4 separate regions of the Homo sapiens genome follow, and regions 2, 3 and 4 are each linked to region 1. Evidence: fine-mapped expression QTL. A gene starts in region 1. Each other region holds a variant in brackets. All regions are shown on one strand. Distances are from middle to middle. Region 1 holds the start of GPSM1 (G protein signaling modulator 1). Region 2 overlaps CCDC187 (coiled-coil domain containing 187). Region 3 overlaps GPSM1 (G protein signaling modulator 1). Region 4 overlaps GPSM1 (G protein signaling modulator 1).

Region 1 (7,217 bases):
GCCACGGTTCTAACTGCTCAGCCTCCCGCAACCCTCGGAGGTGGAGATGGGCGGGGAACGCGGAATGCGCCTGGGCCTCACAGCTGGGGAGTGGATCTGGGATGTGTACCCCTGCACTGTGCGGCTTCTCTCCCCCAGAGGGTTTCAGACTTACACCCGGCCATCGCACTCCGCAGACTGGAAACTCGCAACTCAAACCCCTAAAAGCGAAAGCTGGGGTGCATTTTCTGTTTGCCTTGGAGGGACTCCCTAGGATTTACTGGGGACGGCCGATTTGCCCTCCTCATCCTGTTTGGTTTGAGCTGATGTTAAAAGACTCGCCTCCCACCGCAGACCCGGGGGGAGACCTGGGGAGCTGCCCTCGGAAGCTGAGCAGCACAGACTCTCCCAGGCATGTGCACCTGTCTGTACATGTGTGCATGTGTGTGTGTGTGCGTGTGTGTGTTTCCCTGGCACTCACAGCATCACCATCTGCCAGGCTGGGTGGGGCGCAGATGAGGAAGACCAAGGAAGTTCCACACGACCTGCCTCGCCATGATGAGTGAGCGTGAGCTGCCTCCTGTGTGCCCTGCCTGCCCAGAGATCCCGGGGACATCACCTGGCTGACAAAGTCTGCAGCTGCCAGCAGTCGGCCAGGAATGCCGCATGGCCAGGTGTCTCATACTGGCGTGGGTGTCGTGCGGCCTCACGCGGCCCTTGAGCTATTTCCAGGTGTGGGTATCATCTCCCAGCGAGGTGCTCAGCCCTGGGGTGGGACAGACCGTTTCCTTCTGGCTCCCTGCAGAGCTTGTGGGCCCCTCCACCCACCCTGCAGTCCCCAAACTCCAGGGACTTGGAGGTCCCCAAGGAAAGGACATGGCAGTGGGAGATGATGTCATGAGGGGACTTGGGCAATGGGGAGGAACACATGGCCAAGCTGGGAGGAAGAATAAGTTCATTCTCAGAGCAACGAGATTATGTGAACATGGTAAACCCAAGTGTTCTTTTTAAGTGAGATTACTGGGAAACAAAGCTGAAACTGTTCCTTCTGTGTGTGTGTGTGTGTGTGTGTGTGTGTGTGTGTGTGTGTGTGTGTTTGGGTGTCCTTCACTGTCTCCCTCCCCACTCCCGGCCTGCTTCTTCCTTCCCCAGCTTGGAATCCACGGTTGAGGCTGGTCAGGAACCATCAGGACCCAGCATGGGTAATGGCAGCTGCTGGTGCCCTAGCCCCCACTGGGTCCTACAGTAGCTGCTTGTTGGGGAAGGGGCCTGAAAAGGTGGGAGCAGAAGGAAGCCAGGGTCTTGGGGCCGTGGGCTGCCACAGCCACCACAGAAACACTCCAACTTCTCCCAGCCCTAGCAAACCAGTGGAGGTGTGTGCTGGTGCTTTGTTCCTGGGGTGGCTTGGGGCCGCCTGGCTGCCTCTCCCGAGCCTGGCCCTCACCCAGGAGGCCACACCAGCCTCGAGTGCCCACCTCCGTCCAGAGCCCCAGCTCCCCACTCCTGGGGGCTGAGCCAAGAACCCTGTGGCTGTCCCACCGTCGCCTCCCAGAGGCTTGTCCGGCGCAACAGGACAAGGAAGGACTAAGGCTTAGAGTCGGCCCGATCAGGTGACGCCTGAGCTGTCACCGCTGTCACCACTTACACACAGGGTGTGTGGACAAAGTGGTGCGTGCCAGGGAGGGCTAAGTGACCGAGGGCAGGCACGTGGCAGGCTCCTGAAGGTGGAGGTGGCGCTGACAATGGCCACCAGTGAGCAGGGCCCTGTGTGTGCTGGGGCTGACTCCAACCCCTTGGCGCTGCCACGCAGGGGCTTGGGAGGGCCCCTCCCCAGGCACATGGGAGGTGGCCCCTCCCTGACCACGGAGCCATCGTGTCTGCAGAGGCCCACCCTGCGCCCTGTGCTGCTGCCTGGGGCCAGAAGAATAAGTCGATGTGAAATGGCTTTTTCTTTCCTCACCCCCCTTTGGGAGTCAGGCCCGTTAGGAATGGAAGGGGCTGTGCTCCTGGTCCCCTGGGGGAGTGAGCTTCCCGGACTCTTGGGGGGATCTGGTAAGGTGGATGGTGGGAGGCTCGAGGGTGTCCAGAGCCTGATGGGAGGGGGTGGCAGTGGAGGGTCATCCCTCCAGGGTCTCCCTTCTGGATGTGGACACCACATGTCAGGCCTGTCACCTGGCCTTGTCACACTCCATCTCTGGGTCCCCTTCATAGGTTTTCTCGACAGGAGAATCAGGTCCCTGGATAGGAGGAGACGCCCCTCTGTGCAGTGTGGTGGGGATGTACCCCCAATCCAGCCAGGACCCACTGCAGGGGCCCAGCAGGGGCAGGCACGAGTGTGAGAGCAACATGACCCCAGCAGCTCTCGCTGTGTGCCAGGCACATGGACACGCACCACACAAACCCCACCGTGTGCCAGGCACACGGACAAGCACCGCACAAACCCCACTGTGAGCCACTAGGCACATGGACAAGCACTGCACAAACCCCACTGTGTGCCAGGCACATGGACAAGCACCGCAGAAACCCCACGCCTCAGTGACCCTCCACACCTTGCGGGACGGGCAGCCCTCAGGTGACAGAACCGAGGCTCAGAGAGGGAAAGCAACTTGTGCCAGGTCACACAGCCTCATAGCCCAGCTCGGCCTAACAAAGCCAGAGCCCTCGGGGGTGCAGGTTTCCCCACAAGTTCTGATATAATGTTGGGGCTCTCCCGGCCCAGGGACACAAGCTCCCAGCTCTCTGCATCAAGGAAGGAGACCAGGAGAAGCTCCCCCAGCAATGACAGCTACGAGGCTGCAAATCTCTCCCTCCCTCCACCATTTGTGCAATGTCTTTTGTCCCCACTTCTCTTCACCAGCCTCCCACCACTAACCCAGGGGACCCACAAGGGGCTCACAGTGTTGGTGTGGACCCTCTGTGGGCCTCCTGATGGCAGCAGCGCCTGGGGAAAGAGGGCTGAGCTGAGGCCTGGCACAGGCAGGGCCCCCAGCAGCCCCTGCCCTTACAATGGGATGCTGGCTCAGGTGCCCGAAGCCCAAAGGAGGTGGCCCGGAAGGTTGGAGCTTCAATCGAAGGCCTGTTCTCTGCCCGCAGCCAGGCCCAGGGCTGTGGCAAAGGAGGGTGGTGCCCCAGCCAACACCACTGTCCCTGCCGGCCAGCAGCCACGGCCCCGGCTGGAAGGGAGCAAGGCTCTGCCTGGCTTCTGTGGTCTTTGGGGGAGGGCACGTGGGCCCAGCAGGCAGCTTGCGCTGCGCTCAGGGCACAGATGGTTCTCATTCCCGTTGCCTCCCTTACACAGGAAAAACAAACCAGCCCGGGGCCAACAGACCCCTTTTTAACCTCGTGTTTATTTTCCTTCCCATGCTTGAAAACGCTGACTGTCCTGTGGGCGGCAGCTGCTGAGGGTCTTGCCAGGACGGCACTTTCCTGACCTCAGGGCAGCTCTCCCAGGGAGGGGCTGGGGTGCACGGAGGGGCCCCGAAGGAATGCAGCCCATTTCCTGCTCCTGGACTTCTCCGAGTCATACCCGGGGTCGCAGCTGCCTTTCAAGGGCCTGGAGTCTCCTGACACCACCGGAAGGCCCAGGATGCTGTCGGGGGCAGGACAGAACCCGGGGAGGCCGGCTGTGGGCCTCGCTGGCTGCGGAGAACCCCCCAAGCCATCGGGAGCTGAGGGTGGGTGGAGGGGAAGCCACGTCACACCACATAGGCCCACAGGGCTCCAAGAATTCAGAGGAGGAGGAGGAGGCGGTAGGGGCTGGGGTCCCGGGACCCCGGGTGGGCACAGCCTACTGTGCCACCTGCATCCTCCCTAAGCCTGCACAGTGCCCAGGAGGAAGGAAGGGGCAGGCTGCATCCCCATTCCGGGGGAGCTTGGGAGGGGAATGTGGCCACCCAGGGTCTCAGAGGTGGGGGGCTTACCAACCGTCCCACAGGCCAAGCAGAGCCTGTATTTGTCATCGGTGCCCCAGGTTTCTCTAAAGCAGGCAGACAGCATCCCCACGGCCTGCGCCCCATGGCCCAAGGCAGAAGTTTGGAGAAGGGGGCAAAGCCACGTTGGGGCTGCACAGAAGAGGAGGGTAGGACCCCCGAGGCGTAGGGCGCCCACCAAGAAAGGCAAGGAGGCCTCAGCAGCCCCTCCCCACGTGGGTGAGGCTGCGGGGCTCACCAGGCGGCCTGTGGATGAAAGGAGCCCAGAGGCCAGTGTGGCTGCACTGTGACCCAGGGACCCCCGCGGGCCCTCAGAAGTCCCCAGGGGACCAGCAGCAAGGCCAGGCCCAGGCCCTCTCCCCTGCATTCCCTGGGGTGGGGTGGGCTGGGGCCCACACCCCCTCCCCCCTCCCCCCTCCCCGGGGACTGCCCGCCTCACGGCGCCCCTCCCCCCGCGTCCGCCCCGCCCCCCGCAGAGGGAGGCACGCGGCGGTGGCCGCCCGGTCCGCGCCCCCTCCCCGCGCGGGCGGCGGTGACATCACGGCCACGGCGGCGGGAGGGGCGGCGGCGCCCCGCGCACATCACTTCCTCGGCGCCTCCCCGGGGGAGGACGGGCGAACGAGGCGCGGACGGACAGGCGGACAGCAGGGCGGACAGCAGGGAGGACAGCAGGGCGGGCAGGGGGCGGACGGCCACGGCGCGGGGGGCGCTCCCGGCTCCCGCTCCCGCGTCCCCGACCCATGGCGGGCCCGGCCCCGCCCGCGGCCGACGAGCTCCCGGGCCCGGCCGCCAGGCGCCTCTACTCCAGGTAGGACGGGCCGGGGCCGGGGCCGGGGCCGGGGCTGGGACCGGACCGGGCCGGGTCGGGACGCGGGGGAGGCTGCAGTTGGGAACAAAGGCAGCTCTCGCGGGCGCGCAGCGTGGCTGAGGACGCGCCCCTCCCTCCAGGCCGAGCCCAGCCCGGCGTGTGCCCGCGTGGGCGTCCCCTGAAGCCCTCTTTCCCCCAAGCCAAGGGGAAGGGGGTGGGGGGCCGGGGGGCTGGAGGCGGGGTGGGCAGCTTCTCCAGCCTCACTCCCCTGGCACCTGGCAGGGGCACCGTGGGGTGCTTCCCTCCCAAGCCTGGCCCTGCCATGCCCGGGGCACTCAGGGGCATCATGGCCAAAGAGACCTGGCTGCTCTGGATGGGGCTCTGCCCCTCACCAGCCCTCCACGAGCCCAGTGGGATCCAGCTGGGTTGGAAGGGAGCCAGCCAGGTGGGTGTGTACCTGCCTGAAAAGGCATCTACTCTCCGGGCACATTCCTGGGTGATCCCAGTGACTGGGCTCTGTGCCCCACGCCTTTGGGGATGACAGGGTGGCCCTGCCCCAGGTGGCATGCCTGCCTGGTGACTCCCAATGTCCCCCCAGGGGCTGCCCTGGGCCCAGCCGGGCAGGTGCCTGGAGCCCCAAGCAAGGCTGGGTGGTACCAGGCCTCAGGCAGAGCCACACGAGCGTGAGGTCCAGGCAGGGGCTTGCGAATGGGTGGCAGCCGTCAGAGGCAGGCCTGGCTCCCCAGAGCGAGGGACACTATTGTCCTCTGGACATCCCTAAAACCTGGTGACCTCCCTGATAGGGGTCCCAGCAGCTGATCCCGGGGGGCGCCTAGCCTGGCCCCCAAGGATTCTCTGGCCCCAGCCAAGCAGCAAGCCTCTGCCTGGGGCACCCGAAATGAGGTACTGGTGGCGGCACGGCGGACAGAGGCCTTGCTGCCTCCGGTCTGCTCTCTGCTTTGGTCCCAGACACAGCCCCATTGTGCCGTCCTGGATGGAGCGCTGAGCCCCTAGCCTGGCTCCTGGGCCCCACGCAGGGGAGGGGCGTGAGGGTGATTTTGCTGGCAGCTGCTGCCAGGGGCCTGCCCTAAAGGATTTTCAAGGGTTTCCTCCGCTGATCTGATCGGCTGTGCAGGGCCGCATGTGCTCCAGGGCGGCCGTGCTGTGAGGGGGATGGATAGCAGCCCTGGCTGGAGTGAGTTTGAGTGTGAGTGTGTGGAGCTGTGAGAGAGTGTGTGTGTGGAGCTGTGAGAGACGGGTGTCCAAGACCTTAGCCTTGGGTGAGGCCTGCACAGCTGACCATAGAGTTGGGCATTCTCCAGGCTACAGCTAGAAGCCTGGGGTCCCCTGGGGACACGCCAGGCAGGAGCCAGCCCCTGGCAGGGGCAGTGCTCAGGGGGACCACTCAGAGAGACCCCAGACCCAGCCTTGCATCCCCCTAAGCAGGGAGTCCAGTTGAGCTCCAGGGTGGAGTCAGGCCCAGACTTGGGGGAAGCGCGCCAAGCCCTCCAGCAGGGCCTGTGACGAGGTCCCCCCGGGAGTCTGCACCCCACCGTGTAGCCACAGCCCGGTTTGGGCAGGCGGTTCCTGGTCGGAGCTGGCTTCAGAGCATGGATGCCTAGACGTGTTCTGGGCCAGTGGAAGCTGCGGGCCAGACGGGAGGGCCCTTTGCTGTCATGCTGGGGCTGGAGAGCAAGACACGGAAAAGTCTCCTGTCTCCTGAAACCCGAGTGCTGGGGGCGGCCCACCTGCTGGCGTGGGCGGTGGGCATGTGGATGCCCTGGAGGTGGGCGGAATCCGTGTGGGCACTCCTCACGTGGCTGTACTGGGGTCCCTCAATGTGGATGGGGCTCCAGGTTGGCCCAAGGTCTCCTCTGCCCCGTCTACTGCCTTCCCACACTGACATTCCTTCCTGGAGAGAGGAGTTTCAGCTTTTAAAATGGGGAACTGTGCCTGGAAAACACACTGACAGCGAGGCCCATGAATGTGCCCATGAGCCCACTGGGTACCCTGAGGGGCCCTGGGTGCTGGGTCGGTGGGGACGGGCCCCTGGGTTCTGGGTCGGTGGGGACGGGGCCCTGGGTGCTGGGTCGGTGGGGACGGGCCCCTGGGTGCTGGGTCGGTGGGGACGGGGCCCTGGGTGCTGGGTCGGTGGGGACGGGCCCCTGGGTGCTGGGTCGGTGGGGACGGGCCCTTGGGTTCTGGGTCAGTGGGGATGGGCCCTGGGTGCTGGGTCGGTGGGGACAGGGCCCTGGGTGCTACAGTTAATGCTCAGAATTCTGGCCCACTTGCCAGGGGCTCCCTGGCCCAGAGCAGGGCTTTGGGGTGAAGAGGCCTGGCGGGGACAGGCCAGTGGCTGAGAAGGCCCCGGAAAGTGGGGAAACCCTGGGTGGTCGTCTCCTGGCCTCCCACCTGCTTTAAGGCCAGCTGAGTGCTCCCCGGGGCTGGGGCCGGGAAGGGGCAGCAGAGCCACCCACCTTGGGGTGACCCTGTTAGAGATG
Region 2 (7,217 bases), 35 kb before region 1:
TGCCAAGGGCTGGGGAGGAGATGGAGAGTTAGTGTTTCATGGGGACAGAGTGTCAGTTTGGGAAGATGAAGAGTTCTGGAGAAAATAGAGATAGGGTCTCACTATGTTGTCCAGGCCGGTCTCAAACTCCTGGCCTCAAGCAATCCTCCCACCTCAGCCTCCCAAAGTGCTGGGATTACAGGTGGGAGCCACCATGCCCAGCTATAATTTTTTAGGTGGGGAAAAAAAAGGACAAGGACATGATGAAGTGAGATGAGGCCCTGCAGCTGCCCGAGACGACGAGTCCCAGCTACTCGGGAGGCTGTCAAGCAAACGGAGCCCGACGGTGGCCAGTGGGGGAGGGGCTGCCCTTGGGAAGGGGGTGGCATGGCGGGGCCAGCATGGGATGCTCACCCAGCGGCATACTCAGGACCTGCGTCCTTGTCTTACTGGACATTGACAGATGCAGCCCCTGGGCTGCCCTGTGACCCAGACTCCCGGGAAAGAATCCCAAAACGAGTGCCTTCAAGACAAAATGGAGCCAAAAGGAGCCAGAGGGAGGGGTCGGGTCCTGCAGAGAGGGGTGGGAGCTGAGCTCCCAGGGGCCAGCCTGAAGCCCCCAATACCAGCTGCCAAAGATACGCCAGGGGCAGCCCTGAGGGAGTCCAGGGTGGGACGCTCTGGTGGGTGGGAGCCCCTCCCTGGCCTCTGAGCCAGCTCCCCCTGCCCGCTGGAACCCAGGGCATGCAGGAGGCCTGGCCGTGAGCTCCTCACAGGTGCCTAGCGTGAGGCCAGGCCAGAGAGTGTTTGCCACTGGCCTGAAGCTGGGGCCTTCCACAGCCCTTCCTGGGCGAGAGCCAGGCTGGAAACTGTAGTGAGACCCAGGCGCAACTCCCCCAAGCAAAGTTGGGGGAGGTCTTCAGACCCCATGTGTGTGATTCACGATGCCCCAGGGGGAGGGGCCTCCAGAAATTAAAATACACAGTAGTCAAAGCAAAACAGAAACACAGAAAAGAACCTAAAAGTAAGCGCTGTGAGGAAGTGGGGAGATGGGGACCCTCACGCCGGCCGGGGGATGGGAACCAGGGCGGCTGCTGTGGAGAACAGGGTGCAAGTTCCCGAGAAAGCTGCACACAGAGGTGCACGTGCCCATGCAATTCACTCTCAGGTGTGCACCCAAGAGAAACAGCTCAAGGGCCAAAGCAGGTGCAAGCACCCATTCACGGCAGCGGCAGGTGGAGCCCGGGCATCCGTTGGCCACGAGGTTGTGAAGAAAAGGTCACCTGCCCACAGCCGGGCATTATTCAGCCACAGACTCAATGAAGTTCTGACTCAAGCTGCAACATGAATGAGCCTGGAAAACGTTATCTTGAATGAGCCTGGAAAACGTTATCCTCGGTGAGAGAAGCCAGACCCGTACTTGGTGATCCCATTTAGATAAAATGTCAAGAATAGGCAAATCCGGGCGGGGCGCGGTGACTCACTCCTATAATCCCAGCACTTTGGGAGGCCAAAGCAGGTGGATCACCTGAGGTTGGGAGTTCGAGACTAGCCTGGCCAATGTGGTGAAGCCCCGTCTCTACTAAAAATACAAAAAATTAGCCGGGCGTTGTGGCAGGTGCCTATAATCCCAGCTACTCAGGAGGCTGAGGCAGGAGAATCACTTGAACCTGGGAGGTGGAGGTTGCGGTGAGCCAAGATCGTGCCATTGCGCTCCAGCCTGGGCAACAGAGCAAAACTCCATCTCAAAAAAAAAAAAAAAAAAAAAAAAGAATAGGCAAATCCGTCGAGGCAGAAAGGAGACCCCCATGGCTCCCCCACAAGGGCTGCAGGAGGGGCTGCCTCCTGAGGGTGGGGGCTCATGGGGAGATGGAATGTTCCGGAACTCAGTAGAAGTGGTGGTTGCACAGCACACGGGGAAGGTGCTCAATGCCACGGAACGTGCACTTTAACGTGGTGGATTTAAGTTTGATGCGACTCTTGCCTCCATGAGAACAAGCACAGTGGTGACCGCCTCCTCCAAGCAGGCAGGTGGCACTGTGGGCGGGCAGGGCAGAGCCTGCCCCACCTGAGGAGCCTCTCGGTCATGAGGCAATGTCACGAGGGCCCCAGAACGCACCCAGAACTGTTCTTGGCCCCCCCCAAGGCCCCGCCCGGCATGTGCAGCACCCACACTTTCACACCCACCTGCCTGGGGCTTCCTGGCCCCCCAGCACCATGCCAGAGGTCACTTTGCTCCATTCCAGCACTGGGGACTCCAGGCTCCCGGAGGCTTCCAGGCCCTAAAGTAGAGGGCAATGCCATCAGAGCCCCCCGCTCGGGAAGACCACACGCCCCGTTCTCTCAGCCTCAGAGCTAGGCCTTGACCTCCCTTGGGGGTCTCAGGCTGCTTCCCCAGAGTCTTGCAGGAATCGGGGTCCCACTTCAGGGGCTGTGAGAGGCAAGGGGGTCCCTCCGGAGCCCCGTTGCACCCAGGGGCAAAGGCGCCCAGGTCTGACCCTGCACCTCACCAGGGCCTCCCCCAGGGAGGCATCCACAGAAGCTCTGGCTTTCTACAGGCAGTGGCAGCGACGCCACGAAGTCCCCAGCCCCCAGCTGCAGCCCTCGCCCGGCCACTCCCTGGAGGACACCAGGGGGCTGGAGGCAGCACCTGAGCGCCTAAGCCTCTGGCCCATGGCTGAGCCGAGTCCCCCCAACCCAACCCCAGCATGTACCCCGGACTGTGCAGAACTGGGGACAAAGGTCACGATGCCAGGGGTGGTCCGGGAGACCACGGGGACCGCCCTGCCGAGGACGGCCTCCCTCTGCTGCCGGTAGACCTCCTGCAGCCTCCGGCTCCTCAGCTCCCGTGTGCGCAGGGCCGAGGCCTTCTCCTCCAGGGCCTGCCGCCGCCGGGCCTGCGCCTTCTGGCGCATGAACTCCCGCAAGGACTCAGAGCTGTGCGAGGGTCCCAGGAGCCCCCGGGACCTGGGGCAGGGCCGCAGCGTGTCCTTCTCCTTCCCAAGTGGGTTCTGAGGGAAGCTCCCGGTGGGCCTTGGCAGGGCATGCTTGGCAGCCGAGACGGGGGAGCCGATGCCTCTGCCCTTGCCCTGGGGGCCGGCCCTCTGCACGCCGGAGCTGCTCCAGGGCCGCTGGGCTGGAGGACTGGGCCTTTCCAGAGGGTTCCGCAGTCTGGGGCCAGGGTCCTCCCAGGTTTCACAGGCAGTCCAGGCCCTCCGTGGACAGGGCTGTGTGGCTACAGCACTCCAGGGCTGCTGGGGGAAGGGGCTCCGCTTTTCAGGGGGGCTCCCAGGCCTCTGGGAGGAGGGGCCCTGTCTTTGGGCCCCCCAGGCCCTCTGCGGACTGCAGGCCTGCCCAGCCAGTGCACTCCAGGGCCTCTGGGAGAAGTGGCCCAACCTCTCATGGGGACTCTCCGGCCTCTGGAAGGAGCGGTCCTGTCCTTGGGCCCCCCAGGCCCTCTGCGGACAGGACTCCCGTGCAGTGGAGGAGCTCCAGGGCTCCCAGGTGTGGACACTCCTAGCCCTCTCTAAAGAGGAATGCTTCCTCTCTGTCATGGCCCAGGGACTCTTAGAGAAGGAGCTCTGGGCATTGGGGTCCCTGCAGCAGCCCCTCCCTGCCACGTCCTGCAGCCTCCGCTTTGATGGCCCGAGCTCTTGCCCTCCCTTGCGGGCCTGGGCCAGCTCCAGCCCAGCCTGGATTTGCTGGCGCAGGTCTTGTAGGATGGCCATGGCCGTCTGTATGGTCGCTGGCTGGTCGAAGGAAGCCAGGCTGGGTGTGTTCCCAGACACCTGCTGGTCACTGT[A/G]GGCGGAGGTGGCATCGGGCAACTGGGCACAAACCGGTGAGCACTTGGCAGCTATGACTTTCTCGCTGTCTCCTGCAAAGACAGGAGTGTCAGGGGTGAGGAGGGGAGCGGAGGGGAGAGCAAAGCCAGCTCCTCCATCCGGGCTGGAGGCAAGGAGTGTGGGGGCGGTGAGGAGGCCCTCGGGCCCCTGCTGGGCAGAAGCCCTCTGAGGGTGGGCACCACGCCTGTGTGATGAGCCACCGCTCTGCACACAGTAGCCAAGCACAGGTGTGCCTGTGTCTGGGGAGCCCCTGCCGGCTCCCATCCTGCCTTCCTGCCAGGAGAGAGCCTCGGCAGCATGCCTGCCCCGGGAACTGGCGATGGAGCCTCCCAGGGCCAGAAACCCTTTTCTCAGGCTTTGAAAACACTTATTGCCCAAAGTCCCCAGTTGAATGGGTGGCAGGTTTGGAGGGTGTTTGCAGGCTGCTGTGAGAGGCGCCAACACCTCTTCCTTCCAGGCGGCCTGGAGCCTGGGTGTCTCCTTCTCTGTGCCCGCCCCCAGATGCCACAGCAGAGCAGGACAGAGCCCATGGCAGAGGCACAGGTACCTAAGTCCACGGTGAGAGCCGGGTCTCTCGAGGGATCCTTGCTATGGTGCCTGCGGAGGACGGGAGGGGGCCCAAGCAGCGACCTCACCAGAGCTTGTCCCTTTCTCCAGGCGTAAACACCAACCAGCTCCGAATCTTAAACAGAGAAAACATACACACAGCCGGGCGCCCCATGGCCCTCTGGGCACTGGCCCGGACGGGGAGGTTGGTGGCTCTGCAAGCGCCAGGAGGCCACTTCAACACTCCCAGAAGGCACCGGGAGGATATCCCTCATGTCCAGGCCCCTGTTGGGCAGAGCGGGACCCTCAGCCTGCACAGGGCAAGGCTGAGTCTCAGGGCGGCCATGGGCAGGTGGCTTCCCTGACCCTCAGAGTCCTCCTCCTCCCTGACCCTCAGAGTCCTCTTCAGGAAATCGTGGACAACAGGACCTGCCCCACAGCTCTGCCGGTGAAGCTCTCAGCACAGGCCGGGCACGCAGCACATGTGAAAGAAACGCCGAGCAGCAGCAGCAGCTGGAGTGACAACCGCGAGCCAGCAGCCCCACCCTCCGCTCCGTGCTGCACATCGGGCTCCGCGCAGCACGGGAGGTCCTGTCACCGCTGGCCACGTGTGCCGAGCCACAGGAGATTAACCTGCTTTTAAGCCAGCAGAGCCAGCAGTCACACGGGTGGGCAGCGGTGAAGGCTCCCCGGCTGGCAGGGCAGGGAGTCCCGGGCATCGCTGCAGCAAACGGCCCCACGTCCCGAGTACAAACGAGCCTTCGCACGCAAATGGCATCATGCAGTGAGTGGCGCTCATCCAGGTGGCACTTCACAGCCCAGCTCACGGCCACCGATGCCAACACCAGCCCCACCAGCCCCGTGGGCCCAGCTGCGAGGGCCCTGGCAAAGGCCGGAGGTAGGGCCAGCCCTGGGCTCACATGCTCACACACTCACAAACACTCACATTGCTCACACACTCACAAACACTCACATGCTCACACACTCACAAACACATGCTCACACACTCACATGCTCACACACACTCACATGCTCACACACTCACAAACACATGCTCACACACTCACACTCACACGCTCACACTCACATGCTTACACACTCACTCATGCTTTCACACTAACATGCTCACACACTCACAAACACATGTTCACACACTCACACTCACATGCTTACACACTCACACTCACATGCTCACACACATTCACATGCTCACACACTCACACTCACATGCTCACACACTCACAAACACTCACATGCTCACATACTCTCACATGCTCACACACTCACACATGCTCACACTCACACTCACATGCTCACACACTCACAAACACATGCTCACACACTCACAAACACACATGCTCACATACACGCTTACACACTCACACTGACATGCTCACACACTGTCACACACGTGCCCACAACTCCCTCACGTGCTCCCAGGCTCACACATATGCACGCCAATGCTGACAGGCACTCGCATGCTCACACTCATGCTCACACTCTGTCACACGCATGCCCTCGCACGTGCTGTCACACATGCTCAGTCACATGCTTTCACATGCTCACTCATGCATTCACACATGCACACACACTTGTACACACTGACATGCTCACACACGGTCTCATCCTCACACACTTTCACACAGACACACATGCTCTCACACTCACACTACCACACACTCGTTCTCACACACATTCAGTCTCATATGCTCTCTGACTCACACGCTCACACACAACCACACACACTCATACACTCATATACACACTCCCTCGTGCTCTCCCACACACACATGCTCATATACACATGCCCTCACATGCTCTCACACACACACTCACACTCATATACACACGCCCTCACATGCTCTCACACACACACTCATATACACACGCCCTCACATGTGCTCTCACACACTCACACGCTCATATACACACGCCCTCAAGTGCTCACACTCACACACTCTCACACTCATACACACGCCCTCACATGCTCTCACACACACATTCACTCACACGCTCATATACACACGCCCTCACATGTGCTCTCACACACACTCACACGCTCATATACACACGCCCTCACGTGGTCTCACACTCTCACGCGCTCATATACACACGCCCTCACATGTGCTCTCACTCTCACACGCTCATATACACATGCCCTCACGTGCTCTCACACACACATTCACTCACACACACTGCTTATTCCACCTGGCTCTGCAGGGCCAACACCACACATGCCAAGGGTCCCTGGCCCCTATGCCCCTTCCTTAGGCCCAGCCCAGGGCAGCTCCACCCCGTGGCCTGGGGTCAAGACCACTGTGGAGTCTCAGCCAGGGCTGGCCCTGGCCCCCATGAAGGGGGACTTTCTGCCAAATGAGAGTGCCTTGGGCAGGGACCATCCAGAGAGCTGAGCACCCAGGGGCAGGCTCCCGGACTGAGTCAGGGACTTCCCTAGCACCCCCCAGACACGGCACCCTCCTCACACTGCCCTGACCCCTGGCCATCAGCCACAGGCCTGAAGCTACCTCTCCAGGAAGGTGAATGGGCTACATGGTTGCACCCACCAGGCCATGCCCTCCCAAAGCCACGTCCCCAAGGACAGGCTTCCCATGGCCACGGCCTCTCCAGGACAGGACCCCAGGCCATGCCCCACACCCACTTTAGGGCAGGACCCCTTAAGGCCATACACTGTCTAGGACAGGACCCCAAGGTAGAGGAAGGTTTAGGGCGTGGTCTCAGGATTCTCAGACCTGGGTTTAAGTCTGGCTCTGCCACTCACCAGCCATGGGCCTCAGGCAAGTGTTTCACTTATCCATGCCTCAGTTTCCCCATCTGTAAAATGGGGTGCCT
Region 3 (7,217 bases), 21 kb after region 1:
CAGCAGATACACAGTAAATGCCTGCTGCTTGGTCACCAGGCTCCTGCCGTGTGCCAGGCACTGCTGGGGCCCTCACTGGCACCAAGACCGCTGAGCCGCGTCCAGCAGCTGATAGGTGAGGAACGGGGAGCCCAGGAGTGAGCCACATGGGATGAGCTTTGGGAGAAAGAAAAGCCCAACAGGGAGGTGCGGACAGGAACGGGGGAGGTGCGGACAGGATCGGGGGGAGGCGCGGACAGGAGCGGGGGGAGGCGCGGACAGGAGCGGGGTGGGGGCGCGGACAGAAGCGGGGTGGGGCGCAGACAGGAGCAGGGGAGGCGCGGACAGGAACAGGGGAAGCAGGCTGCAGCACCTTTGGGAGATGACCATCATGGTCCATTCCGACTGCCCTCACAAAGCACCGCAGGCCGGGGCAGCAACAGCAGACGTTTACTCCTCACGGCTCTGGAGGCCAGAAGGCCAGGGTTTGGGTGCTGTGTGCTCGGGTGCTGGCGAGAGCCTCTTCCGGGCTGGCAGACGGCGCTTTCTTGTTGTGTCCTCACCTAGCAGAGACAGCGAGGAAGAAGGGGGAGCTTGAGAACACTGGTGGCTTCTCTTAAGGCCACTTGTCATTATGGGGCTCCATTCTCATGACCTCATGTAAACCTCAGGACCTCCTAACACCATCCCATGGGGAGTTAGGGCTTTGATCATGATGCTCCAGCAAAGACTGGAAGTCAGAGAGAAGTGAGCCGCAAGCTTAGACGGAGGAACAGCAGTCTGGGCAGAGATAACAGCCTGTGCAAAGGGCCTGAGGCAGGGGCCAGCCTGGTAGGTGAAGGGACAGGGAGACTGTCTGGAGCTGACGGAGCAAGGCGAGGGCCTTGGCCGAAGAAGGGAGGGCCTCGTGGGCCCTTGTGTGAGACCCCCTCCCCAATGGGGCGGGGCCCTCAGGACCCAGCAGAGAAGGGGCAAGGCCTAGGCCAGCCCTTACCAACCCCATGGTCCTTGCATGGAGAGGGGACTTAGGGGCAAGGCTGGGGCAGCAGGCAGGTGAGGGGCAGGTGATCCGGCTCCAGGGAGGTGAGGAGGGGTGGGACTCTGGATCTGCAGTGAGGCGGGGACAGACTGGATTTCAGACCAGAGGTGGGCGTGAAGGAACCGTGGGCAGCTGAAAATCGGGGTTGCTGAGGTCTGAGCCAAGCCGGCGGGGCGGGTGCTGCCCTGAGGGGTCCGGCAGGCACAGGGGGCACCAAGATGCTCGATGGGCTTGAGTTGGCCATTGCACATAAACGTCTGGAGCTGGGTGAGGACAGAAATGATGATGACAGTGTGACGGTCAGCGTCGGGTGGCCATGGGGCGGTGCTGGGAGAAGTTTCCAAACGTTGCCCTCGCAGGCGGGAGAGACAGGAAGCCAAGCCAGTGGGCCGGGCCTGTCTGGGCAGCTCAGCCAAGGGCGCTGGACTCACACTCAACGCCTCAGCCGACTCTGCAGACAGAGGGTGCATTGAGCCAGGCGCAGCGGGCCTTCCGCCCACCGTCCGTGCCTGGCCATGAGGGCGCCCGCCCTGGGGCCAGACGCAGGCTGTGTCTCAGAAGAGCATTTCAGCCGCTGCTGCAGCCAGGGCCCATCCATGCGGTGTCCTGGTGGAGGGCCAGGCCTGGCAGAAGCAGCTGTGCCGGGCCCAGGACCCGGAGGATGCGGTGGGGAAACCAACTTAGGCCCCCATGGCACTGGGGGCGGCAGAGGGAGAGCCAGGCCCTCAGGCAGTGCACACCGGGAGACGGAGCGGGGCTCTCGCTGGGTGTGGTAAGTGAAGGGCCCGCCCCAGCACAGACGTGCTCCTCTGTCATTTCCATGGTGTGGGGAGCAGGCCCCGAACTGTGTGGGGTCAGCAGCTGTCCTCAGAGCTACCTTGCTCATCTGGGTGGGGGTGGGCAGCTGGTGGCCCTTCAGAGAACAGGCCGTCGACCCCAGCCCCGTTCTGTCCCTTCAAGCTGCACCACCCGAGGCTGGGGCGGCTCCACCTCAGTGCCTGGCCGGATCCTGAATGTGCCGGAGCTAACCCTGATCCCGCTGACCACTGTGGCCACAGGGTGGCGATGGGAGCCCTGCCCCGGGCGTTTGTGTTGGGAGTGGGAGGAGCAGTGGACGGCCCCAGGTCCCAGTGTCCTGCTCAGGCCCCTGATGGGCCCCACGTGTGCCTCTGGCCGCACAGGTTTCCATCCCAGGCCCCTGGAGAGCAGGAGCTTAGGGTGTGTCCTCGGAGCCCAGAGGCCAGGCCAGGGAAGCGCACAGCCCACACTCAGCCAGTTCCCGGTCCCTGCCCAGCTCTCATGAAGCTGTAGGCATTCGCCGTGGGCTGGTCTGGGGCCAGCGGGCTGGAGGCGGAAGACCAGCCTGGGCCCCCAAGTCCTCAGCTCCCTCTGCTCCTGTCCCCTTCCCCCCAGCTGCGTTTAGGAGCTCACCATTTAAACGGGTCACATGGACAGACTCAGGAAGGGGCTGCTAGCAGCCAGGCCGATCCAGGGGCTCCCCTCTGCCCCATAGGTAGCACCTTGCTGTCCACCAGGTGCCTTCTTAGCCGTCTGAAGCCCCCAGTGCATCCTCATCACTGCCATTCACTAGGTGGCAGCAGGACCCCCTTCCCAGTTGGGGGTGGAGGCTTGGACTCCATTTGGTGGCACAATGCTCAGACAGCAGCCCCCCAGCAAGACCCAGGCCTGTTCTCATCCGCAGCATGGGCCTGTAAGGGAGACCCTGAGAGACCCTGACACTCGGGCCCATTTCCTCCCTCCCTCATGGTCGGGGCCAGGCTCATATTTAAATCAGGGCCCTGCTGAGGCTGGGGTCAGGGGGATGTTGGCTGAGTGACAGCTGTGCAGGTGAGGCTGGGAGGGGCTGTGTGTGGGGCCCAGTGCCTGAAATGACCGAGTGACTGCCCGCCTGAGCCGGCTCTCTCCCTCTGTGGATGTTGTGTTCCCCGGCAGGGCCCAGAACCCAGGGCTAACGGTGGGGTCCGGGTGCACCTGAGGCCCCGGCACCCTGCCTGGCCATTCATGCTGCTAACTTTGACGAGTGCCCCAACCCTGGTGGCTGTGCTCCCTGATGCAGTGGGGCCTGGACAGGGTAAGGGGGTGTCTGGGCCTGCCCCCCGACATCTGCCTGATGCAGGCAGCCACCAAGCAGCTTCACTTTAGGAGCTGAGCCTCTCGGGGGGATGAGTGCGGAGGGGAACTGCCCGGCCCGGCCCATCCATGCCGGCGCAGTCTGATGAGGAGGGCGCTGAGCTCCGAGGCGTAGTAATGGGGCCAAGTCTGATGGTCTGGAGGTGCCAGGACTGGATTCTCAGAGTGCCCACTGATGCCAGGGCTGGTTCTGGCCCCGCCCTCGGACTCACACTGGGTGTGCGCAGGGCTCCTGGGCACAGCCCGTGTCCAGTGTGTCCACGGGTGGAGGGACGCTTGGTTCCCAGGAAGACTGGGTAAGGGTGGGCATAGGGGGGTGGGAGCTGTGGGTGAGCAGGGAGGAGGATGAGGGTCCTCCCAGCTGCGAGAGTCTCCCTGGAGATGTGCCAGGCGTAGGGACAGCAGAGACAGGGTCCTCAGTGTCAGCCTCGTTCCGCCGTCGTCCCCTCTGCCTAGAACGTTCTGCTGCCCTTTCCACAGTGGCTGTGCCCCTGTCCGTCCCGCCGCCTCCTCAGGGAAGCGCCCGCAGACCCTGGCTCTCAGCCACAGCATCGGGCCCTTCCCACAGGGCTTCCTGCCTGGTTGAGGACATTCCCCACTTCCCGGATTCCATCCCATTTTTTCCGTTCGCCAACTGATTTCTGATCTGCCAGGTCTGT[C/T]GTGCCCTGGATACAGGCTCCTGAGAGTGCTCAGGGAGCGGCTGGGCTGAGGTAGGGCCCACTCTCCCAAACTCCCAAATCCTTTCGGGCCCCGCAGGGCTGAGCGACACCCGTCTCTGCCAGGGCTGTGTTGGGACAGGGCTGAGTGACACCCGTCTCTGCCAGGGCCGTGTTGGGACTGAGGCTTGAAGGTGGGCCTGGCTGTGGGGCTTCCCAGGGGCCCGGGACAGGCACTGGTGGCTCCGCTGAGTCTGCAGCTGGCCAGTGTTGGGTCAGGCAGCTGTGCCCCACCACCCCACTGCGGCTAGAGGGGATGGGGGTCCCTTGGGTGGAGACACGGCCAGTAGGGTGAGCCCCGGGCCAGGAGGGATGGACAGGAGCCCGGGGAAGGTCCCACGGCAGAGCTGGTCTGGGGGATTCATCTGAGGCCTTTGCGTCCCCGACCCTGGCCTGGGCTGCCCGCAGTGAGCTGGGAGTGGACCCACAGGCCCGCCCCACCTGCCTCCGGGGCACAGCATGATGCACCCTCAGGAGGGGGGATTGGGTGGCCTCACAGAGGTGACCAGGGGCCACAGGAAGGGTGATCCAGGCAGAGGGAACAGCAGGACTGACGGGGGAGGCCCTGTGTGCGGCAGGGGAGAGGCCTGTCCAGAGCCGGGCCCTTCCAGCACAGGGAGCCAAAGCCAGACCCCACCTGGCCCCAGCCAGGACGCGCTCTGTCTCGACACCTGTCCCCTTTGACTCTGACAGTACAGTCGGGGAGACGCAGAGGACACTCAGACATGGCGCTCGCCTCCACAAGGGGGGCTGGCTGTCAGAAAGCCATGGCCGGGCTGGTCCTTGGCCCCCCAGAGACTCTGGCCTGGCCCACCCAATGCGAGGTGCCAGGGTGGTGCTGGGCTGACCGGGTCCCTCTGTCTTCAGGGGCCAGACCCAAGAGGACGCAGAGGCTGAGCGCGGAGACCTGGGACCTGCTGAGACTCCCCCTGGAGCGGGTGAGCCAGGGACACGGGACCGATGTCAGCACAGCCGCTGCCAGAGCATGGGCAGCGGGGTTAATGAGGCAGAGCCACCGCCACCCACCTCAGCCCCTGTCTGCTGGGAGATAAATGTGCCCTCCTCGGCCTGATGCCCTGCATGGCCCATCTGCCACCTGCTCACCCATGTCCCTCAGCGTCTGGCCAGCTGTGCCCCAGGCGAGGCATGGTCCTCACACATTTCAGGCCCCCATACTCCACCCAGCTGCTATGCCACCACACCCTCGGGAGCCCACAGACAGGGGCACCCACTCCTGCCTGCTCCCTGCCCTCTCGGACTCTGACCCAAAGTGGGCACAGCTGCTGCAGGTGCAGACACTGGCTGGGGTTCAGCAGACCCACACAGACAGATTCGGGGGCTGCCTGGCGTAGGGCCCTGGGCTGGCCCTGTGCCTGTCGGCAGTGGGTGCTGTGTGGCCTGGGCCAGCAGCCTGATCTCTCTGAGCCTCTGGTTCCTCTGGTGTGGCCTGTGTTCAGTTGTGGATGGCCGTCAGGGTTCTGCTGTGGGGACGAGACCCAAGGACGCCCACAGTCACTGTCATTGCTGGTATAAGCCGGCTGACATTTGCGGGGGCCACTGGCCCTCAAACACCCCACCCTGCCTCTCCCGGCCCCAGCCAAGGGCCCACAGCCCCAGTCCTCTCCTCCTCTCTGGGTACTGGGCACCTACGGCGTGCATCCATGAAATGGAGGCGGCCTGGCCTTCCCTTCAGGGTCCTGGGATGGGGACATTGGTTCACAATTGCCCAGGCCACGCACAGCCTTACCCCTCCCCAGGAGCAGAATGGAGACAGCCACCATTCAGGGGACTGGCGGGGGCCCAGCAGGGACTCGCTACCCCTCCCCGTGAGGAGCAGGAAGTACCAGGAAGGCCCGGACGCTGAGAGGAGGCCCCGGGAGGGCAGCCACTCCCCGCTGGACAGCGCCGACGTCCGGGTGCACGTGCCACGCACGGTAGGCGTCTTTGACGGCAGATCCAGGCCGAGAGGGAGGAGAGCTTGGCAACTGCGCCCCAACTCCACTGCCAGCCAACGGGGCCAGGTCAGGCCCGGGCACTCCGGGGAGGCAGGGGTCCCTCCCCGGTGCACCTGGTGCAGTGCTGTCCTGGGACCCCGGTGGGGGCTCTGGGCAGGGCTCAGTGTTTAGCATTGTGGTCGCACCTGGCCTCAGAGGCCCCGGCCACCGAGGAGCCTCCTGGGGACTCTAGGCTGGGCTCTTCTGCATGGAACGCCCCGCCTCTCTTTGGGCCTCAGTTTCCATCTTGTTCACCAGTTGGGGGCTGGCTCTTCCCAGCCTTCAGGTGGCCTCTCTCTCTGACTCCAGCCCCCACCCTCCTTTGTTGGGACCCTCCAGACCCATCCGCTAGTCACAGGAGCGTGTCCCTGAAAGGAACTGGCTGCCTTCACTGTGAGAGCCGGGCTGCACAGATCCCCTGATGGGGTGCCCCTTCCTGAGGTGGCTCTTGGAGGCTCTGGCCAGTGAGGTCAAGCCTGTGTATCCTACCAGGGCCCTGGAGGGGTGGACGAGGCCAACACAGTCCCTGGGGGAATCCTGGGATCTCTGACACCTGGCGGGGGTCCCTGAGCAGAGGGGCCTGAGGGGCACCCAAGGGGTGGGTGGGAAGCCCCTAAGCCACACCCATGGTCAGGCCCTGGTGTGGAAGCACCTGCAGCTCCAGCTGGGCCAAGGTACTGGGGCCTCTCCTTGTGGGTGCAGGGGCCGGGGCAGGACCGATGGTGAGTGGGGTCATGGAGGGGATGCAGCTGGGTGGCCTGTGCATGGCTGCAGAGCCCCTGGTGAGGGGACAGCAAGGGGCTAGGTCCACTCAGGGTTCCTCCTGGTCAGGGGCTGGGAGGCCCCACCCTGCCCTACCCCACCTGGGCTCAAGGTCACGAGTGGAGCAGAGGGTCACAGCCCAGCAAGCAGCAGCAGCGCAGCCTGGGCGCCACCCGGGTCCTCAGGGCTAGCCAGGAGCCCCCCGCGTTGCTGTGGCACACAGAGGTGGCGGGAGGGGTGGGGCAGTTGCAGTGACTGCCAAGTGTATGGGTGGACGGACGGGGGACAGACAGACTGGTGGTCAGACTCGGGGTTGGTGGGGGGACAGGTGACAGGCCGGGCCTGTGCCTGGCAGGTGTCAGCTGTGCCAGGGCCACCCCAGCCACGGGAGAGCTGGTTGGTGTTCAGGGGCACCGATGGGCCGAGTCCGGGTTCGGAGGTCAGCCTGGAGCTCCCCCGAGCAGGACGGCTGGGTCCAAACCACTAGAAATAGTCTGAAATTGTTCTTCCGTGGGCACCAACCTGCAGAGGGGTGTGGGTGCTGGGCTGGGATTCGCAGCCCCCCGAGGCTGCCCA
Region 4 (7,217 bases), 30 kb after region 1:
AAACTGGGCTTGTGCCAAAGCAAGAGAGACTAGAGTCAGACTGCAGGAGGGACTCTGAGGCCTCCGGGAAGGAGGGAGCCAGGGCTTGGGGCAAGGGAGAGGTTAGAGCAGGGAGGCGGAACCCCGAGTCCCACTGGATATGTTCTACTGGGACATAAATGCAGGGGAAGGTGGCCTTGGGGCCCAGGGTCCTGCTTCTGAGGGGCTCCAGGAGCCCCAAACTATCCAGAGCCTTTCCCCGTACCAGGCACTGAGCCACGGTTTTGCACCTGCAGTCGTGGGCCCCTGCCCCCATGTGAGGGAGGCATCAGCCCCTCAACAGCTGGCCCCAGCCTCAGGGAAGGGGAGGGCTGCCCGACATAGGACCCTGAGAGGGGCTCTGCCATGGGGCCTGGGACATGGCCCCTGACGGGTCCTGCCTTTCCCAGGAGGGACCTTGCTCAGTCCACCTGGGCCCCGGGTCACCTGGGGGAGTCCAGATTGGGCCAGAGGCAGAGGCCCCCCGCGGCTGTGCCCTAGGTCATCATAGCCCAGGAGCCAGTTCCTTTTAGACCAGGAGGCCACATCCTCCTGGGGAGGTACCTGTGTGGCCCCAACTGGCACTCAGGCTGGCAACCCCAGTGCCACCCTCTGCCTGGACCTGCAGCTCCCAGAGCCCTGGCCCAAGTGGATGTGGCCCTCCCCACAGACTGGGCCAATTCTCCCCTCCCTCCTGGCTGGGGAATCCGGGGGAGTGGGGGTGTTGCCTTAGGCCTGAGCCAGGCTGCAGGAGGAGAGCCCTGCGGGGAGAAGGGGGTGCTAGAACTCTCCCTCCTCAGGTCTGCCTCAGGGACAGGAGGTACCTCAGGCTTCCGTGACAGCTGGGGACTGACTCCAGGGGCCAGAGCCAGGTGGGGTCTCTCCTAAAACAGGGCTGTCCACAGGGCCCTCGGCTCAGCTCAAGGGTCTGAATCCCAGCTCTTTTTTGCTCCAGCATGACCTTGGGTAGGTCACACATGTCTCTAGGCCCCACTCTCCTGTGCCCTGGGCCGAGTCCAGCAGAAAACTGGAAGCAGGACGGGAGCCCTAGTCCTGGGCTGTGGGGGTCAGGTGTCGGGAATTCCAGTTGTCTGTCAGACAGCTGTCCGTCTCCTGGGCTGTGGGGGTCAGGTATTGGGAATTCCAGGCAGCATCGGGGACCCGGGAGGTGCCATCTCCACCAACATTGCGTCTCTTGTTAACTCGTTCAGCTGTGAGCCCAGCATTTGCAGACCTGGAAGAGGCCACCAGCCGTGAGATGGACAGGCTGGGGCCGGGCAGGGGCTGCCAGCGCCGGTCGGGAGGTGGACGGGGCTTGGAACCATCACAAACACCCTTCAGCCCTGGGGCCCGGACCAGGCCCTGTGAGGCTGGGTCACGGGGTGGACCTGCTTCAGCTGGGCCCCTTGGGGGGCCACAGGAGACCACGCCCTCCAGCCTCCCTTGTTTGGGTGTGTGGACTGAGGCCCAGGGCGGGGTTCATTCCTTCGAGTTCATTCACACAGCAGACACCGGTGAGGGCTGTGTAGGGCATGGACACAGGGAGCTCATGGCAGGGCTGACACAGGGTGTGGTGGGCACAGGGACAGGAGGCACGGGAGGCTTCCCGGGATGTCTGGGAAGTGTTCCAGGCCAAGGCTGGGGAGGCTGGCCCAGGGCAGGTGACGGACAGAGGCCTGGACTGGGGTAGCACCCATGAGAGGGGAGAAGTCCGGGGCAGTCGGCGGGTGCCGAGGGTGAGTGACACGTCCTGGGGGAGGGGTAGCCGGGTGCCGAGGGTGGATGACACATCCTGGGAGAGGGGTAGCCGGGTGCCGAGGGTGGTGACACGTCCTGGGGTAGGGGTAGCCGGGTGCTGAGGGTGGGTGACACGTCCTGGGGGAGGGGTAGCCGGGTGCCGAGGGTGGGTGACACGTCCTGGGGGAGGGGTAGCCGGGTGCCGAGGGTGGGTGACACGTCCTGGGGGAGGGGTAGCCGGGTGCCGAGGGTGGGTGACACGTCCTGGGGGAGGGGTAGCCGGGTGCCGAGGGTGGGTGACACGTCCTGGGGGAGGGGTAGCCGGGTGCCGAGGGTGGGTGACACGTCCTGGGGGAGGGGTAGCCGGGTGCCGAGGGTGGGTGACACGTCCTGGGGGAGGGGTAGCCGGGTGCCGAGGGTGGGTGACACGTCCTGGGGGAGGGGTAGCCGGGTGCCGAGGGTGGGTGACACGTCCTGGGGGAGGGGTAGCCGGGTGCCGAGGGTGGGTGACACGTTCTGGGGGAGGGGTAGCCGACAGGGGGCAGGTTAGAGTCCCGATCTTGGCCAGGGTCTCAGAAGTGTGTGTGGCCTGGGCAAGCAGCCCCCGGTCTCGTCTGGGGGTCTGCGGGGCTAGCTTTGGCTGCGGTGACCCCACTCCCTCCCCAGAGCATCCCGAGGGCCCCGTCTTCGGACGAGGAGTGCTTCTTTGA[C/T]CTGTTGACCAAGTTCCAGAGCAGCCGCATGGACGACCAGCGTTGTCCCCTGGACGATGGCCAGGCCGGGGCTGCCGAGGCCACGGCCGCCCCCACCCTGGAGGACAGGATCGGTGAGTGCCCCCCTCAGCCGGGCCCTCCCTTGGGCTTGTCTGCAGGGGCCAGGACCAGGGCTCCCGTCCTGCTTCCAGTGAGGAGTTTTCGGGGGCAGACCAGCAGGCCAGCTGCAGAGCACCCTGTCACTGAGGGCGCCCTCCGCAGCCCCCACAGAGCAGCATCCCGGGAAGCGTGTCATCAGCCCGCCCTCCGGGACACACTCAGGCTGCAGGGGCAGTCTCAGGGAGGGGGCAGGGCGTGGGGGACTGGCGTTCTCCTCCTGTCTCCTCCTGTCACCCCCTGGAAGCCCCTGAGGTGGGCGTGGGAGCCACAGCAGGGGGAGCAGCTGAGAGCTGCCTAGGCCGGTCAGCGGAGACTCCCCCAGGAGCCATGGCCCCAGCAGCACAGTGGGCTGGGCTGGGCTCAGAGGTCAGAGCTCACTGTGGCCGCAGCCCGAGCCTCGGGCTTGACCCCGCACTGGGTCCCAGGTCTCACCCTCTGGCCCCCCGCAGCCCAGCCCTCGATGACGGCCTCGCCCCAGACCGAGGAATTCTTCGACCTCATCGCCAGCTCCCAGAGCCGCCGGCTGGACGACCAGCGGGCCAGCGTGGGCAGCCTGCCGGGGCTGCGAATCACCCACAGCAATGCAGGGCACCTCCGAGGCCACGGCGAGCCCCAGGAGCCGGGGGACGACTTCTTCAACATGCTCATCAAGTACCAGGTGGGCTGCGGCCCTGGGCGGGCGTGGCTCGCGGCCCCTTTGCCATCCACGTGTGTGGAGGCAACTTGTGTCCTGAGGGGTGAGGTGGGCGCTGGTTCTGCCATCTCCGGTCATGTTTGAGGGACTCCTGGGGGACTCAGCCAGTGTCACCACATGACCAGGGGTGTCTGAGCCTGAAGCCCTACTCCTGGGAACCCCGGGCTGCTGGAGACACCAGAGACCCCCCCTGGCAACCCCAGGACACTCCCAGGCTGTGCCACCCCCCTGCCATGCAGGAACTCGGGGTGGGGGCTGGGGGGTCACAGGTCCTGGAGCTCATGGCCTCAGGGATTCCCCACCAGCCCTCCACACCCGGCAGGGAAAACACGGGCCAGATAGCACCCCCAGAGTGGGGAGGGCAGGGGGATCCAGGGCTGCCAGCTGGCTGGTGGGACAAAAACAGGGACCATCCAGGGACCACACAGTGGACGGCATGGGCGGAGGGTCCAGCCCCAGAGGGCAGAGCCAGGGCCGGGGCTCCAGCCTGGCAGCCACGCCAGGAATGACCTCCTCATCTGTGTGGGGGTGAGCCAGGTAGGGTGGCCGGAGTGGAGACTGCTGAGCCAACTGCTATCCCAACTAGGACCTCAAACTCTGGGGGTCTCGCCATCCCTGTGGGGTGCAGCCATTGCTGGGAAGGGGTTCAGGGTCCGTAGACTTGGGAACAGGCTGGGGGTGGAGGCCGCTTGGCCCACCACGAACCAAGCCAGCACGTTTCCAGGTCTGCCGTCCTCCCCACAGCAGAGAGGAAACCTCGGCCCGGGGCCAGGCGTCCGACCAGCCACCTCCAAACCAGCCCCACCCAAGAGGCCCAGAGTCCCCCATCCACACGCATGCCTGCGCCAGCTCCCGTCCCTCCTGCTCCAGGCGCTTCAGAGAAGCCCAGACAACCCCTTGGCCCCCTGGCCTGCACACTGGAGCAGGCGAGGCCCACGGGGTCAGCCACCTGACACAAGGGGAAGCCCTGGGGGGCGCCACACTTCGGGCTCTGGAAGCTGAGACCTCAGGCCTGCCAGGGTCAGTCCCAGGCTGTGCTGGTTTCCAGGGCTGGGCAGAGGGACGGCCACGCATGCCCGTCCCTGGGGATCAGCAGATGTGGGGAGCAGGCATCCAACGCCGCCCTAGCCACTGTCTCCTGGGCCTGGCACACCCATGCCCAGTGGGAATCGCTGGACCTGCTTTTCCTGGGCGGGCCTGCCCTGGGCTCCTGCGGGTTGGTGGCGGGGCCACCAGAAGACTGCGCTCAGGGCCCGGGCTCCCAGCACAAGACCCCAGAGCGAGGCAGGCCCCAGAACCAATTTCCTGGGTGGACAGGGGGAAGCCCGTGAACAGTGCACGCTGGCCTCTGGAACCACCGCTGCTGACCAGCCCCGGACCACTGGGGCTGGGGGGGTGAGGCCGCCAACTGCACTGTGTCCACCCAGTCCTCCAGGATCGATGACCAGCGCTGCCCGCCACCTGACGTACTGCCCCGGGGCCCTACCATGCCGGACGAGGACTTCTTCAGCCTCATTCAGAGGGTGCAGGCTAAGCGCATGGACGAGCAGCGGGTGGACCTCGCCGGGGGCCCGGAGCAGGGGGCAGGCGGCCCGCCCGAGCCCCAGCAGCAGTGCCAGCCTGGTGCGAGCTAAGGCCCTGTGCCCACCGCCAGGCCCACCCTGCCCCCACTCCTGGACGCCGGTCTCACAGTCACAGCCACGTCCTCCCGAGGCCATTGCCGAGGACAGGCACTGGGCATGCAGCCCCACGGCCTCCCCGACCCAGGGCGACAGGCTCAGGCCAAGCTGCCCGTGGTGGGAGGGCGTGCTTCCATCCCGGGCTGGCCCCCATGGCCCTCAGCTTCCTCCCTTCTGCCCCTGCCGCAGGCCGGACGGGGCCTTCGGCATGTCGGCCCCGACCTGGTGCTGTCAGACTCCCGCATCCTCTCCCCCAAGCCCTTCCCGTTCTGCCCTGCCCTGCCAAATGTGAAACCCTGCTGTCTCCCCCACCCTCCCCAAAGGTGTCTCTGAGCCGCCTCTTGGGGCCACCAAGGACAGGGCCATGTTCTGTCCCCCCAGAGCTGGTCTTGGGATGGCCGTGTGACAGGCATGCTCCACCCCTCCAGCTTCGTCCTGGGGCAGGGCTCCCTCCAAGCCTGTCTCCCCACTCCCCGGCCAGAGGTCAGCAACCACAGAAGGCCCCCCAGACCACGCATGGCAGACCAGGCTGCAGTGGCAGCCCTGAGGTGCCCCCCGCCGAGTCCCAGGGCCCTGCAGGGGCCTCGACAGGAGCCGGGCCTATCTCTAAAGCAGAGGGAATGGCTGGGCATGAACTTCGACATTCCAAAACCCCAAGCCAGGAAAAAGGGCAGGGCCTGGTCCTAGGGATGCTTACTGGCAGCAAGAGCAGTGCCCAGTCAGGGTGGGAGGTAGCACCAGGCTCTGTGACCCTCACCCAAGTGGGGGGGTGGTCAGTGGAAGCTGGGGAGGCTTCACTCAGCTCAACCCTGCAGACCCCCCATATGAGAACCCCCCTCCTCCCACCAGCTGGGGGAGATGACATCACTGCTCTCTCCATGGGGAGGGGGCTCACAGGGCACCAAGTTCGGGATCCTAGGACTGGCAGGACCTGCTGGAGCCTGAGATGGGCCCCAGGGGCCTGAGGTTGCCTCCTCCTGTCCAGACCCAGCCTTGGCACCTCCCAAGACTGCCAAGGGCCCTACCATGGCCCCACAGCCCCCAGGGCTGGCAGTTCCATCTAGGAGGGTGCCTCTAGGCCCCACTCTCAGGCTAGGATGGAGAGGCAGATCTGGGCCTGGTGAGGTGACCTGCTTCTGGAGGGGCAGGGCCGCACCCGAGAGCAGGGACAGGTGCCCGAACACAGGGTCTCCAGGACGTAGCGCCCCCCCGCATACTTGAATGTATGTGCGTATTTATTGCTCACGTCTGTGCCATGTTGTCAATGGGTCCTTTCCAACCCAAGAGGTACATTTGTTTTTCTGTTTTTCCTGAAAAATAAAGTCGGCCAAGTGAGTGTGGTCCGTATGGGCTTAGTCCCGGGTGGGGGCCTAACCCGGTAAGAGGCTGCACTGTGCAAAGTGTCCACAGATACCCACTGTCTGGGCCCTCTGAGACCTCAGAGAGATGGAGTTCCCACTGCATTTAACCACGGGGGAGCTGGGGCACAGAGGGGTGAAGTGGCTGCCTGCTGTCACCACTGATTCCTGCACCCCTACCTCCTCACGCTCCCAGCCCCTAGGGAAACAGAGCATGCTCTGAGCTGACACTCACGTGGCCGGGACCAGCCCCCAGAAGCAGCAGCCCCCAGGTCAGCCCCACGACCCCCTGAGGACCCAGCCTGCTGCCGCCCACCCAGCACCCGGGGGAGGGAGGTCCTTTCCTGGAGTCTGATCCGGCTGGGCTCAGGGTCTGGACACTGAGCCACAGTGGAGGAGCCGACGGCAGATCTGCAGTCTTGGGGCTTGTCTGGGCGCTGCTTGTGGTGGGTGGCACCCCCACGGGGCCCCCGTCAGGGGACACACAGGTGCGCCGGGCAGTCCTGCTGCCCCTCGCCACAGCCCACCTGGCCATGTTGGCAGCCACAGCCTCTGTGCTGGTTGACTCCGTTGCCTCCTCCACCCCAGAAGGGGCCTTGGGAACCAGAATCAACGTGTACTCCAGGTCCAGGGTCCCAGCCAGCTTGCGTGTGGTGGTACACGCACACAGGGTCCAAGTAACCGTGCAGGGCCCAGGACCGCGCACAGCCAGGGAAGCGCAGCAGTGCCGCCCACGCTACTGGCTGGGACAGCCTCTGAAGGTGCGGCCGAGGAACCTGCTTGGAGAGACGCTGTGACGAGGGATGCCCAGGCCAGCAACCGTGCCCGGGAGGCAGGGATGTCCTGGGGCGGGGGGGTGTAG

Evidence for each region. PIP is the estimated chance that this variant, and not a neighbour inherited with it, causes the effect.
Region 2: its variant is the best candidate, but not a certain one, in a credible set for the expression of GPSM1 in cerebellum (GTEx, PIP 0.52).
Region 3: its variant is the best candidate, but not a certain one, in a credible set for the expression of GPSM1 in whole blood (TOPMed, PIP 0.62).
Region 4: its variant is the best candidate, but not a certain one, in a credible set for the expression of GPSM1 in sigmoid colon (GTEx, PIP 0.89).

The regions. Positions count from the first base shown.
Region 1 is chr9:136,323,048-136,330,264 of GRCh38, forward strand. It overlaps GPSM1 (G protein signaling modulator 1), which reads left to right and starts at 4,492. Exons shown (of 14, transcript NM_001145638.3): 1 at 4,492-4,716. The coding sequence starts at 4,649. It overlaps DKFZP434A062 (a long non-coding RNA gene), which reads right to left and starts at 4,276. Exons shown (of 1, transcript NR_026964.3): 1 at 1-4,276. RefSeq lists enhancers at 869-1,495, 1,496-2,124, 4,654-5,183, 5,184-5,712 and a silencer at 3,326-3,620.
Region 2 is chr9:136,287,793-136,295,009 of GRCh38, forward strand. CCDC187 (coiled-coil domain containing 187) reads right to left here. Exons shown (of 26, transcript NM_001378188.1): 5 at 4,369-4,503; 6 at 2,694-3,853; 7 at 2,167-2,261. Among named protein-coding and RNA genes, the nearest start is that of CCDC187, 13 kb to the right of the region's middle. The variant A/G (reference allele first, on the strand shown) is at 3,782.
Region 3 is chr9:136,343,945-136,351,161 of GRCh38, forward strand. It overlaps GPSM1 (G protein signaling modulator 1), which reads left to right. Exons shown (of 14, transcript NM_001145638.3): 10 at 4,753-4,823; 11 at 5,643-5,819. Among named protein-coding and RNA genes, the nearest start is that of DNLZ, 16 kb to the right of the region's middle. RefSeq lists enhancers at 1-456, 990-1,643, 1,644-2,297. The variant C/T (reference allele first, on the strand shown) is at 3,829.
Region 4 is chr9:136,353,269-136,360,485 of GRCh38, forward strand. It overlaps GPSM1 (G protein signaling modulator 1), which reads left to right. Exons shown (of 14, transcript NM_001145638.3): 12 at 2,422-2,578; 13 at 3,074-3,282; 14 at 4,746-6,333. The coding sequence ends at 4,952. It overlaps DNLZ (DNL-type zinc finger), which reads right to left. Exons shown (of 3, transcript NM_001080849.3): 3 at 6,215-7,217. Among named protein-coding and RNA genes, the nearest start is that of DNLZ, 6.9 kb to the right of the region's middle. The variant C/T (reference allele first, on the strand shown) is at 2,466.